Linked DNA regions of Homo sapiens. The protein of the gene in region 2 purifies or fractionates together with the protein of the main gene of each other region. This does not show direct contact. Each region holds a gene or a part of one and is shown on either strand. Other genes may lie near its edges. The genes, in order: SMC1A and MAU2.

What was found.
Region 1: the proteins of MAU2 (region 2) and SMC1A purify together in Homo sapiens (affinity purification with mass spectrometry; 2 studies listed by BioGRID and IntAct, with this or other methods). This does not show direct contact.

What each region holds. Positions count from the first base shown.
Region 1 is NC_000023.11:53,373,617-53,377,911, forward strand, and holds the end of SMC1A (structural maintenance of chromosomes protein 1A), read right to left. Parts: 3' UTR 533-4,295; downstream 1-532. UniProt on the Homo sapiens protein: Involved in chromosome cohesion during cell cycle and in DNA repair. Central component of cohesin complex. The cohesin complex is required for the cohesion of sister chromatids after DNA replication.
Region 2 is NC_000019.10:19,344,731-19,352,019, reverse strand, and holds part of MAU2 (MAU2 chromatid cohesion factor homolog), read right to left. Parts: intron 7,172-7,289; coding exon 7,094-7,171; intron 6,717-7,093; coding exon 6,651-6,716; intron 4,741-6,650; coding exon 4,654-4,740; coding exon of another isoform or gene 4,650-4,653; intron 3,132-4,649; coding exon 3,082-3,131; intron 2,866-3,081; coding exon 2,788-2,865; intron 2,696-2,787; coding exon 2,584-2,695; exon of another isoform or gene 2,579-2,583; intron 1-2,578. UniProt on the Homo sapiens protein: Plays an important role in the loading of the cohesin complex on to DNA. Forms a heterodimeric complex (also known as cohesin loading complex) with NIPBL/SCC2 which mediates the loading of the cohesin complex onto chromatin.

The DNA.
Region 1 (4,295 bases), on a different chromosome or scaffold from region 2:
GAGAACCACCTAATACTTCCTATATGCTCACTTTGCCTCACCTAGACGTCCATTATATCATCTTCCACACTTAGTGTGCTTAACCACTTACTTATCTGAGTTCCCAATTAAGCCAAGAATTCCTGGAGGGCATGTATATCTAATTCCCAGAACCTAGCACAGGGCCTGACACATGACAGGAATTTAACATATGCCTGCTGAACAAATGGATGGAAAAATGATGCATGAGTGAATACAGGAAAGAGCAAATGAACTGGTAAATGCTTACATTAATGCATTAATGAATAAGTGAGTGAAGTTGTGAGTTAGTGCATATATAAGGTAATAAATAAATGAGTGGATGAATGAATGATAAAAATAAGTAAGTGAATGAAAGGTGCCCATGCCAGTGAGGCAGGAAAGGATGAGTGAATTCCCACCTCTGTGTCTTGCTTCAACCCCACCAGGAAGACCTCTTGCCCTGCTTTCCTGTTATCTAAACTGCACACCAGTGTTAACCTTTTAGATTCCAAGGAACAAAGACACACACAGGTTAGTGATGGGGATTTATTAAAGCATTCACAGGGAAATAAGGAAGACAAGAACAGCTACACAGGCAGCCTCATGGAAGAACAGAAACTTGAAAATGGTTCATGATCCAAAGCAGCTCTAGAGCCTGGCTTATCTTGTCACCCCCTCAGCTGCAGGCATCTGTTGCTCCCTTCTCTAGTGCTTCCCAAATTGGTGACTCAACTCCTTTCTGGCTGTATTTATACTCCTCCTACTGCTACTGACTAACTTCTTTCTGCCCCCCTCGATGCTAGCCCATGGCTTTTTCTGCCTCATGGGTCCTGCAGCTTCATGGCTCCCGGCGCTTCAGTTCCTATTAATCCATGGCTTTTCTGCATTGTAGCTCCTGCTGCCTCTTCCATTCCTGTTGCCATGTTGCCACATGGTTCTGGCTACCTTGTGGTTCTTGCAGTCTCATCGCTTCTACTGTCTCATGATCTTATCTATTCAAGCCTTCTGCTGCTTTGTGGATCTCATAGTCAGTTTTGTCTCACGGTTTCTGTTCCTCGTGGCTCCTATTGCTTCATGGCTTCTAGCCCATTGTTGCCTTGCTGCTTCATGGCTTCTGCCACCCTGTGGCTCCGTGATCTCATTATACAAATGTCTCATGACCTCTGCTTACTTATGGTTTCTGCAGCTTTCTCTTTGCTTTTGCTGTTTAGTTTCTGGCCACCCCTCATCCACCACCACTAATGCCTCATTAAATTCTAATTAACGTTCACTTCTTCTGAATAGCTCACATTCTGCCTCCCTGAAAGATCTGGTTGTTTCATACATTTGCCATTTGATACATGCCACCCCTGTAAGGTGAAGTCCTTATGCCAGTCCAGCTAACAGGCCACTGGCCAGCCTAGAGATTGGTTGCCCTTGAACCAGACACTATCCACATCTAGCTATCTGTGGCCAGGATTGTGAGGTCACATGGTACAGAGCATGGCAACTTATGCTAAGGAAACCCCTTAGAAGGGACTGCAAGCATGGCAGGTTTGCTAAGGGTTTCCAGAAGGGGGCAGTGTAATTGGCAACCATCTTGTTTGACCTGTCCAATACATTGACCTTCAAGGTTCAACCTAAGTCCCACCTTCTCCCTGACCACCTCTGCCTGTCCTGATCTACAATGGGATAGATCAAGATCAAGACTCCAGAGATGACATAGAAAGGAAACCTAGCTTCCATTTCTGGCTCCAACACTTCCTAGCAGTCGGACCTTAGGAAGTTAATTCCCCTCTGAGGACCTCAGAAGGGGTTTGGGCAGTCTTCCCTTACAAGTCTGACATTCTGGGTATCTCACTATAAGTTATTGTATAAGAGATGTGACTCTTACCTGGGAAAGCCCTCAAAAACATCTCTTGAGGTAGGAAAGAGGGAGTCAGAGTCCTGGCTTGGAAGAGCCTTACTGCACACTGGAGGTGCTTAGCCAAGATTTATTGAACTGGATGAATGAATCAATGGCTTGTGGAGGGGTGGGGAGTGGGGGGGCAGTGAGAGACCACACAGCACACAGAATGTCTAACTAACTTGAGGAATTCCAGTTGCTGAGGAGGATGTAAGCAGATTGTTTCAGAGATGGATAAGGAAAGAGATGACTGGGACAGGGTAGGAATCATGGCTATTCATGGGTACTCATTCTATCCTCTCAGTCACCCTCCACATCCAATAATCAGTCATTAAGTTATCATCTTACCTTAACAGTTCACACCTTAACACCTCCAATCTATTCCTACTGGCCTTTGCCCTAGTGCAGGCCTCCTGGTCTTTTTCCAGTCTCCTAGCTAATCTTGTCATCTCCATTCGCTCTCTCACAAATGGATTCACTCATGCATTCATTCATTCAAAAACTTTACTGGGTGCCTGTTTTGTGTCAGGCACTGTGCTTTTTTGCAGGGGCTATACTGGTAAGCAAAATATCCCCAGGCCCACCCTTGTGGTGCCTAAAGCTTATTCAGAGACAAAATAAGCAAATATAGTAGTGTAAGAAGCTGATTAACAGGGAAGCTACAGGCACGGGCACATACAGCATGAACATCTAACCTAATCTGTTTTCCATGCTGGTTGGCTAGCCAGCCAGAAACAGGTTAAGTTCACATCTGATCTGGAGTCCCCCTATTAAAAACCATTTCATGGCTCCCTCACTGCCTTCAAGCTATGGTTTCCAAATCTGGCTGTACCCTAGTCATGTGGTAACCTTTATAAGCATTCAAGATTCCAAATCTTCACCCCAGACTTAATGAATGTTTTAGGGGCCGGGGCCCAGAATGCCGTACCTGTTTGTGGTATACAGCCAGTTTGGGAACCACACTGTCCTACAAAACAAATCTGAATTCTGTAGCCATGCATTTACGACCCTCTTCCAATCTGGTTCCTCTCTACCTTTTCTTGCTGCTTTCCCCCCACCCCAGGAATCTTCATGCTTCAGTATTTGTTTTGCTGTTTCTTGCCTTCATGTCTTCATGCATACTGTTTCCAATATCTGGAAATTCCTTCTACTTCCTCAACTGGCTAATTCCTACCCGTCCCTCAAGACTCAGTTCAGGTATCACCACCTAGACTACAGGATGCCTTCTCTGAATCTTCACATAAGCTAGATGTTTTTCCTGTGCTCCTGTCAGTGTTGATCACACTGTATGGTTAATGGCTGTTTTACAAATGGTTTCCCCAACTAAACAGTGAGCTCCTCAAAGGCAGGATAAAGATTTGACTCATCTTTGTGTTCCTGGTGCACAACACTGTGATTTCCAGAGGGAAGTGCCCAGTTAAACTTAAGATACTGTTGTGGAGTACTCTTCAACTCCCTACAGCAAGGCTACTGCGTCCACAGTATAAGGGAGTCAAACTAGTTCCTCCAACAAGCCCTAGGGAATCTACTCGGATCCAGCTTGCTCTTGGAAACACTGTGGTGCCCAGCCTCCCGTGAGCATAGCCTTGACAACGGTTGCCCTGTGATGCCAGGAGGTGGTGGGGCACGACAGGAGAGAGCAGGGGGCAAGCACTAAATAGATCCGAGTGGAAGTCTAGGCTCTGCCACTAAACCAGTGGAATCTTGGACAAGTCACCTCACCTCCTGGATCCTCAGGACTTAAGTCCCCAAAGCTCCTTTGTAGCACATGTGTTCCTGTGTGCCAGGGCCTTAGCCTAAGGCATCTCATGTAATCCTTTTTATCCTGTGAGGTAGGGGTTAGTTATCTGGGTTATTATCCATGCTGGCTGAATCAGATTTCCAGAGGTGGGACCAGAGCAATTTATTTTTAAAGAGCTCCACATCCTTTGGATGTGGGGGTGCAAGCAGGGAACTGCTGCTTCTCATTATAAGCCCTTCTGTACTATTTTATTTTTTTACCTGTGTATATATTGCTTTACTTTTTAAAAAGGAAAAAGAAAAAGCTTTACAAACGATTCTGATGCGCAGCCAAGGTTGATAACCACCTGTACAGTGGAGAAAGCACTTGAATGACTTGGAAGACCTGGGTTCAAACCTTTTTGGGCCTCAGTTTCCTTATCTGTAAAGTGGGGAGAACAGCAAAGGTGACCTTTAAAGGGCTGTGAATGATCTAGATGCCAGCCAAATTGCTTCATATATATTTAATTTTCTCTTTGCTTCACTACTGCAAGGTAGGTGTTTATTATCTCCTTTTACAGATGTGGAAACTTAGGCTCAGAGGTGAAGTAACTTGCACAAGTTTCTACAGCTAGAATTTGAACCAGGTCTGACCCCCGAATTGTGCTCGTCCATAAAGGCCAGCATTTGC
Region 2 (7,289 bases):
AAAATAAGCCAGGTGTGATGGTGCTCGACTGTAATCCCAGCTACTCGGGAGGCTGAGGCAGGAGAATCCGTGGAACCTGGGAGGTAGAGGTTGCAGTGAGCCGAGATCACACCACTACACTCCAGCCTGGGCAAGAGAGCAAGACTTCATCTCAAAAAAAAAAAAAAAAAAAAAAAAAAAAATTACCAAACAGGCTGACAAGCAAAACCTCCACGTGGGAGACGTGGGCAGTGGGAAGGGATGGATGACAGAGACATGCAATTTTTTTCTGTTTTGCTTCTCAGCCTTTTAATTATGAACATGTCATATTTTATAATCTAGAAAAATAACTTTTTTTTTTTGAGACGGATCTCACTGTGTTGTCCAGGCTGGAGTGCAGTAACATGATCACAGCTCACTGCAGCCTCAACCTCCTGGGCTCAAGTGATCCTCCCACCTCAGCCTCCCAATTAGCTGGGACCACAAGCATGAGTCCACACACCCAGCTAATTTTTTTGTTTGGTTTTTGTAGAGATGGGATCTCAGATCTACTATGTTGGTCAGGCTGATATTGAATTCCTGCGCTCAAATGATCCTTCCACCTCTGCCTCCCAAAGTGTTGGGATTACAGGCCTGAGCCACTGTGTCTGGCTGGAAAATATCTTTTTTTTTTTTTTAAGAGATAGCATCTCTAGGGCCAGGCACAGTGGGTCATGCTGTAATCTAGCACTTTGGGAGGCTGAAGTGGGTGGATCGCTTGAGCTCAGGAGTTCAAGACCAGTCTGGGTAACATGGAGACCCAGTCTCTACCAAAAATAAAAAAATTAGCTGAGCATGGTGGCACACACCTGTGGCCCCAGCTACTTGGGAGGCTGAGGTGGGAGGATCACTTGAGCCTACAGGGGGTGAAGGTTACCACGAGCTGAGCTGAGATCATGCCACTGCGCTCCAACTTGGGTGACGGAGTGAGACTCGGCCTCAAAAAATAAAATTAAATTAAAAAAAAAGAGGGTCTCACTAGGTTGCCCAGGCTGGTGGTCTTGAACTCCTGGGATCAAGGGATTCTCCCCCATCCACCTCCCAAAGGGATACAAGCAATGAGCCACTGTGCCTGGCCAAAAATATCTTTTTTTTTTTTTTTGAGATGGAGTCTTGCTGTGTTGCCCAGGCTGGAGTGCAGTGGTGGGATCTCGGCTCACTGCAAGCTCCGCCTTCCTGGTTCATGCCATTCTCCTGCCTCAGCCTCCCAAATAGCTGGGACTACAGGCGCCTGCCACCATGCCCGGCTAATTTTTTGTATTTTTAGTAGAGACGGGGTTTCACCGTGTTAGCCAGGATGGTCTCGATCTCCTGACCTTGTGATCTGCCCGCCTTGGCCTCCCAAAGTGCTGGGATTACAGGCGTGAGCCACCATGCCCGGCCTTTTTTTTTTTGAGATGGAGTCTTGCTCTCACCTAGGCTGGATGGAGTACAATGACACGACCTCGGCTTACTGCAACCTCTCTGCCTCCTGGGTTCAAGCAATTCTCCTGTCTCAGCCTCCAGAATAGCTGGGAGTACAGATGTGTGCCACCACACCTGGCTAATTTTTGTATTTTCAGTAGAGATGAGGTTTCACCATGTTGACCAGGCTGGTCTTGAACTCTTGACCTCAAGTGATCTGCCCACCTCAGCCTCCCAAAGTGCTGGGATTACAGGCATGAGCCACCGTGCCTGTCCCAAAAACATCTTTTTTTTTTTTTTCTGAGACAGAGTCTCACTCTGTTGCCCAGGCTGGAGTGCAGCGGCATGATCTCCGTTCAATGCAACCTCTGCCTCCTGGGTTCAAGTGATTCTCATGCCTCAGCCTCCCGAGTAGCTTGGATTACAGGCGTCCACCACCACGCCCCACTAATTTTTGTATTTTTAGTAAGAGACAGGGTTTCACTATGTTGGCTAGGCTGGTCTTGAACTCCTGACCTCAGGTGATCTGCCCGCCTTGGCCTCCCAAAGTGCTGGGATTACAGGCGTGAGCCATTGTGCCTGCCCAAAATATCTTCTTAAAAAAAAAAAAAAAAAAAAAAAATTCAAGACCTCGTGAGATCAGTGGGTGAGAGTAGGCGAGGAATTGACAGGAAGGACTGAGGCGGCCAGTCCCACCAGAGACTGGCTGACCTTGGGTGGGGACCAATCCCAGGGGCCACTTGTACCCTGAGAGGACACTGTGTTGGCCAAGGATGATATGTTTGGAAGTCCGGCTGAGAGGAGACACCTCTCTGCCCCTCAGGTGTCAACACATAGCATGGGGTGGCTGCGTCATCCCCAGTAGCTCAGGGCAGCTCCTTTGGTTCTGGCTTCAGCTCCCCTGAGCCCTGGGGCTCTGCCTGCCCAATGTCTGAGGCCACACCCATCAGGCCTCCTGCCTTCCCCCCACACCCTCTGTGGGTGCCCAGCTCCTCTGGCCCTGCCTGCCCAGGCTGTGGGAGTCAGGGCATCCACCTAGACGTGCTCTTCGAGGGGCATAGGATGAACAGTGCCATGCCACCCTTAGGGTGCTGGCCGGCTCCTGTCCCTCAGCCAAGCCCCACAGGCACCCAAGCGAGGGGCCCAGGCCAGGGCACTCACCCTGTGGTTTCCCAGCACATAGAAGATGTGGCCCAGAAGCACGAGGGAGCAGGCTGTGAGCCGGTTCAGGTCCTCAGCATTGGACATCTTCAGAGTTTCCCGCAGAAATCGCCTGACAAGGAGAACATGGACGCTGATAACTGCAGGACGGGGCCTGGGCTACCCTGAGCATGGCCCTCACGCCACCCTCTGCCCCACACTTACTTGGCCTCGTTGTAGCGTCCCTGGAAGAAGGAGAAGAGCCCACGCACATAGAAGGCGGCTGCTCGGAGGCAGTGCGAGCTGCAGGGAGAGTGCAGTATCACATGGGGTGGTGATTTTGAGAAGCAGGTTTACAAAACGGCAGTGGGCAGCTGGGGGCTATTTCTGAGAGCCCCCACTGCAGACTGTCTGTGAGGAGGGGTATGGGGTGTCAGGGTGCAAGGGGCAGTCAGGGGCCCCAACCAAAGAGCACGGGGAGCCTAGGCCGTGCGTGGAGTGGTGCCTGGAGCGGCTCACCTGACAGGGAAGCTGTGGTCCGGGTTGATCCTCTCCAGCAGACTGTAGAGCTGCGGGGGAAAGAGCCAGTCAGCACCATTCTGCATCTTCACAGGAGAAAGGTCCCCAAGACACACTGCAGTGCATGGGAATTTCTCTACACCCCCGTCGGGACTGTGGCCTCCAGGCTGAGCCTGGTGACTGACCAGCAAGAGCAGCCTCTGGTGAGAAGGGCCGGGGGCAAGATTTCCACACCCTCAGCCAGCCCTGCCTGTGCCACCCTGTCCTGCAGTAGGTGACAGGGGCCTGGGCGTCCAGAAGGCCTTTGTATGGTCAGAGTGGTGCTGAGGGGCTGGCCTGGCAGTGGGTAGGTTGGCAGGCTGGGGCCCGTGAGCCCTGTGGGCTGTGGGGGTGAGTGGGTGGGATTTCTCTGGAGGTGCAGGGACCCCGGGAGGCTCTGATGGGGGCGTGATCTGACTGATAATTTAGCTGCCCTCTAGCTGCAGAGGCACAGGGGAGCCAAACTCCTCCTCAACACTGCGAGCCCACGTATGGCATCGGATGACTAAGCCGGGGCTGGGCTTTCTTTTTCCTTTGAGACAGGTTCTTGCTCTGTCGCCCAGGCTGGAGTGCAGTGGCTGGATCATGGCTCACTGCAGCCCTCAATCTCCCTAGCTCAAGCAATCCTCCTGCCTCAGTCTCCCGAGTAGTTGGGACCACAGGCCTGCACCCCACCAAGTTTTTAAAAAATTTTTTTGTAGAAATGGGGGTCTCCCTATGTTGCCCAGGCTGGTCTTGAACTCCTGACCTCAAGTGATCCTCCTGCCTTGCTTCCCAAAGTGCTGGGATTACAGGTGTGAGCCAAGCACCTGGCCTGATACACTTTGGAGGTAGACCCCCAGAGGTGAAGGAGATACTAGAACTGAGGGACATCCTAGGGCTGAGGGGGATCCCAGGGCTGAGTGGGCATCCCAGGGCTGAGGAGGGAATCCCAGAGCTGAGGGGGATCCCAGGGCTGAGGAGGGGATCCCGGGGCTGAGGAGGGGATCCCGGGGCTGAGGGGGATCCCAGGGCTGAGTGGGGATCCCAGGGCTAAAAGGGACAGAAGAGGGAACCTAACTCTTATGCAAGCATTGGTTCAGAAGCGCCACGTGAGGGCAACCCTGGGCATCCCCACCCAACACTGCAGCCAGTGAGTGCCCCTGATCCTGCAGGGGCATCAGCACAACCTGGGGACAAGGTGCTCTGGCTGCTGCCCCTTAGGACTGAGCCTCAATGCCTGGCCGACATCCTAGAGCAGACAGCTTGGGCTATAAGACCTTGTCTGTGTGATTCATACAGCTTGGTTTGTTTGTGATAAAGAGAAGTGTTCTGTGGCTATGGGAATGTTTTTGTCCCAGACCTGGCCTCCCCCGGCCATAGCCCGATTCACCTCTGGGTCGCCTTGTGTGTCTGTGTCGGGTGCCGCCCATCCCTCAAAAGGTGAACACCCTGGGGTCTGCTGAGATGTGCTGGTGCCCAGGACAACCCCCTGGTTCCCCAAAAAGAAGAGAACAGAGAGAAAGGATACCGAACATGAAGCATGTCACCTACTACCTCTTGGTGTCTATTTCCTTCCCGTATATACACACTCGCCAGGTTGGTGACGATGAAGGCCCACAGCTCCTGGTGGTTGGTGAGCTGGAATGGGAGGCGGGGACATTAGGGGGCTGGGTCGGGTGCTGTGACCCATGTGGCAGTGTCAGAGCACCCACAATCTCCACGGAGACTACTTTGGAAAAGACTTGTTCTTTTCATTTCAAACACACTTGTTTTGCCTCCTAAGCTCAAGGATAACACAGCTATTACTTCTTCTCATTATAAAACCATCATCTGCGTTACGGGGCAGTTAGAGAACACAGAAGAGGAAAACCAGCCACCCCAATCCTACCCTCAGAACATGTCGGGTTTTGGTCCATTTTCCACTGTCTCTCAGGACTGAGACCTGGTGGACCCTTCCTCCAGGCCACAGCCAGCAACCTGTGGGACCCAGGTGTCCACTGCCATCAAGGCATATGCTGGTCCTAGGCGGGGGTCACTCTTCATAGGGGGAAGTGGGGAAGAGGGGAGCTGTTGTCCCACAGGGGGCCAGCACAGGCCCCGCTCCAGGTAGGTGATGCTGTGTCAGAGACCAGAAATGCTGCTGATGACAGGTGGTGGATGGGCCATGGTCCCTGGCTCTTCTTGGCAAATGAGATCGTTCGTCAAGAGAGGGTCCAATCTATGTAGCTCAAGCCCTGCTCAGACCCTGGTTCCCAGTGGGGCTGGGCAAGAGGTGGAGTGAGCCCAGGAAGCACAGACCCCACCTGCACAGATCCCCTCCTGGCACACACCCAGGAGGCCCAGAGGATCTTCCGAATCAAGCACAGATGCTCTGAGACGTAGCAAGGTGGGAGATGTTTGTTTCAGGGCCACAGGAGGCGTGTGTGTTTGGGGTTAGGGGTGTTGGGGTTGCATCCTGGCTCCATCACTCCTGGGTGGGCCATGAAAAAGAGGCTCTCTTTTGGCCTCGGGGTGAGGACTCCTTAGGGTACATGGCCTTGGGAACTTTGACGCGGAACCAAACCAGCAATAGCAACCACTTGTGGGGAGTGAGACGGAGACGGAGATGGCAGGATGGCAGGGCCACGAGGAGGGTCCTGGCCCTGCTGCAGTCAGAGTGAGCCAGGGTCCTGGGAGCGAGGTGAGGAGGCAGAGGAGTGGGTGCTGAGTCAGCCCTTCCCTCCCAAGCATGCTGTCTGCATGTCAGGGCTCCTGTGCATCTCTGAGGCCAGTGGCGGGGGTGGCAGCACCCACAGGCCTGCGGGGTGCCGTGGAATGGGAACCCTGTCCAACAGTCAGGGCGCACACAGGACTCCCTGGTGACCTTGCCCGAGTGGCAGACAGAGCAGCCTCTGCTCCCTGACACCTCTCCTCAGGGCCCTTCCTGGCACCACCAGGAAAAAGGTGTCCACAGCCTCCATTTCCTGTGAGGAGGTTGAGGCTGAGGTGGGGACACAATGGTCCAGCCCTGGGCTGGGGCGCTCCGTGAGGATGTGGCACCAGCCTTCTTCCAGGGCCTGGCGGGGCCCCCGTCTAAGGCCAGGAGCCTGGGGTGCTGCTTCACCCTCTCCGGCCCAGCAGGACCAAGAGTCCTCCTCTGTCCAAAGAGCACCTGGGAGATGGCCCAGCTCCACCACTCCCCATGGGAGCCCTGAACCCAGGATGGCTCTGAGTTGTCAGCTGACACTTGAGCCAATCCAGCCTTGGGGGTGGGTGCCGCAAAAGTTCCCACTCAGGCATGAAAGTGGTGTCCCCGGACGCGTCGCACCTCTCCCTCACGTCTGCCCTTGGGTCAGCTCAGGAAGCCCCTGGCCCCATAGCTGTCCCTTATCCAGATAAACAGCGCGTCACTGCCAAGGCTGGCATGGGCTGACTACTGTGCATTGCCTCTGGGGCTGCGGCTTTGCATAGCTGACCTAGCGCGACTGCTGTCCTCATCACAGACCACGCCCGACTCCTTACTCAGAAGTGTGGCCCGCCCCGAGCAGCAAGGAGGGCCGGCACCTTACCCGCAGGGCCGTGGTGAACTGGGCTTCCGCGTTGTCCATGCAGTTGACAGAGACACAGTACAGGCCCTGGAAGAAGGTGGTGTTGTCATCAGGGCCGGCCCCTGGGGAGGGGGCTCAGATCAGAGACACGTGGTGTGCCCGGGGCCTGCACGGCTGCCCTGGAGGAGTATGACAATGGCTCTACCGAGCCAGCTGCAAGGCAGGTAATATGCTCACTGTCCCCACCTTTCAGACCCAAGCCAATGTGGGGTGGGACAAGATGCTCACTGGGAGCATTCCGGATCGTGCCTGGGAAGGTTATATGATTACCTATGGGAACATTCCGGATTCTGATTAGGGTGCTGTCAGGGGGTCCTTCACTGGGAATGTTCTGGATCTGGTTAGGTACTTACTTACTGAGAACATTCTGGATTCTCCCGGGGTGTTGTCACAGGGTTACTCACCAGCAATGTGTGCAGCTGTGCTGCATGGTTGGAGAAGAGCCGGGGGGACTGCTGGCACAGCTGGCAGACCTGGGAGATCTGCCGGGAGAGAGTGTACTGCCATCACAGGACTGCAACCTGGGACCTGGCGTCTGAGCAGCAATGGAGAGACCCCATAGCTGGTGGGTGAGCCCATGTCCTGTCTGACCAAACTGGG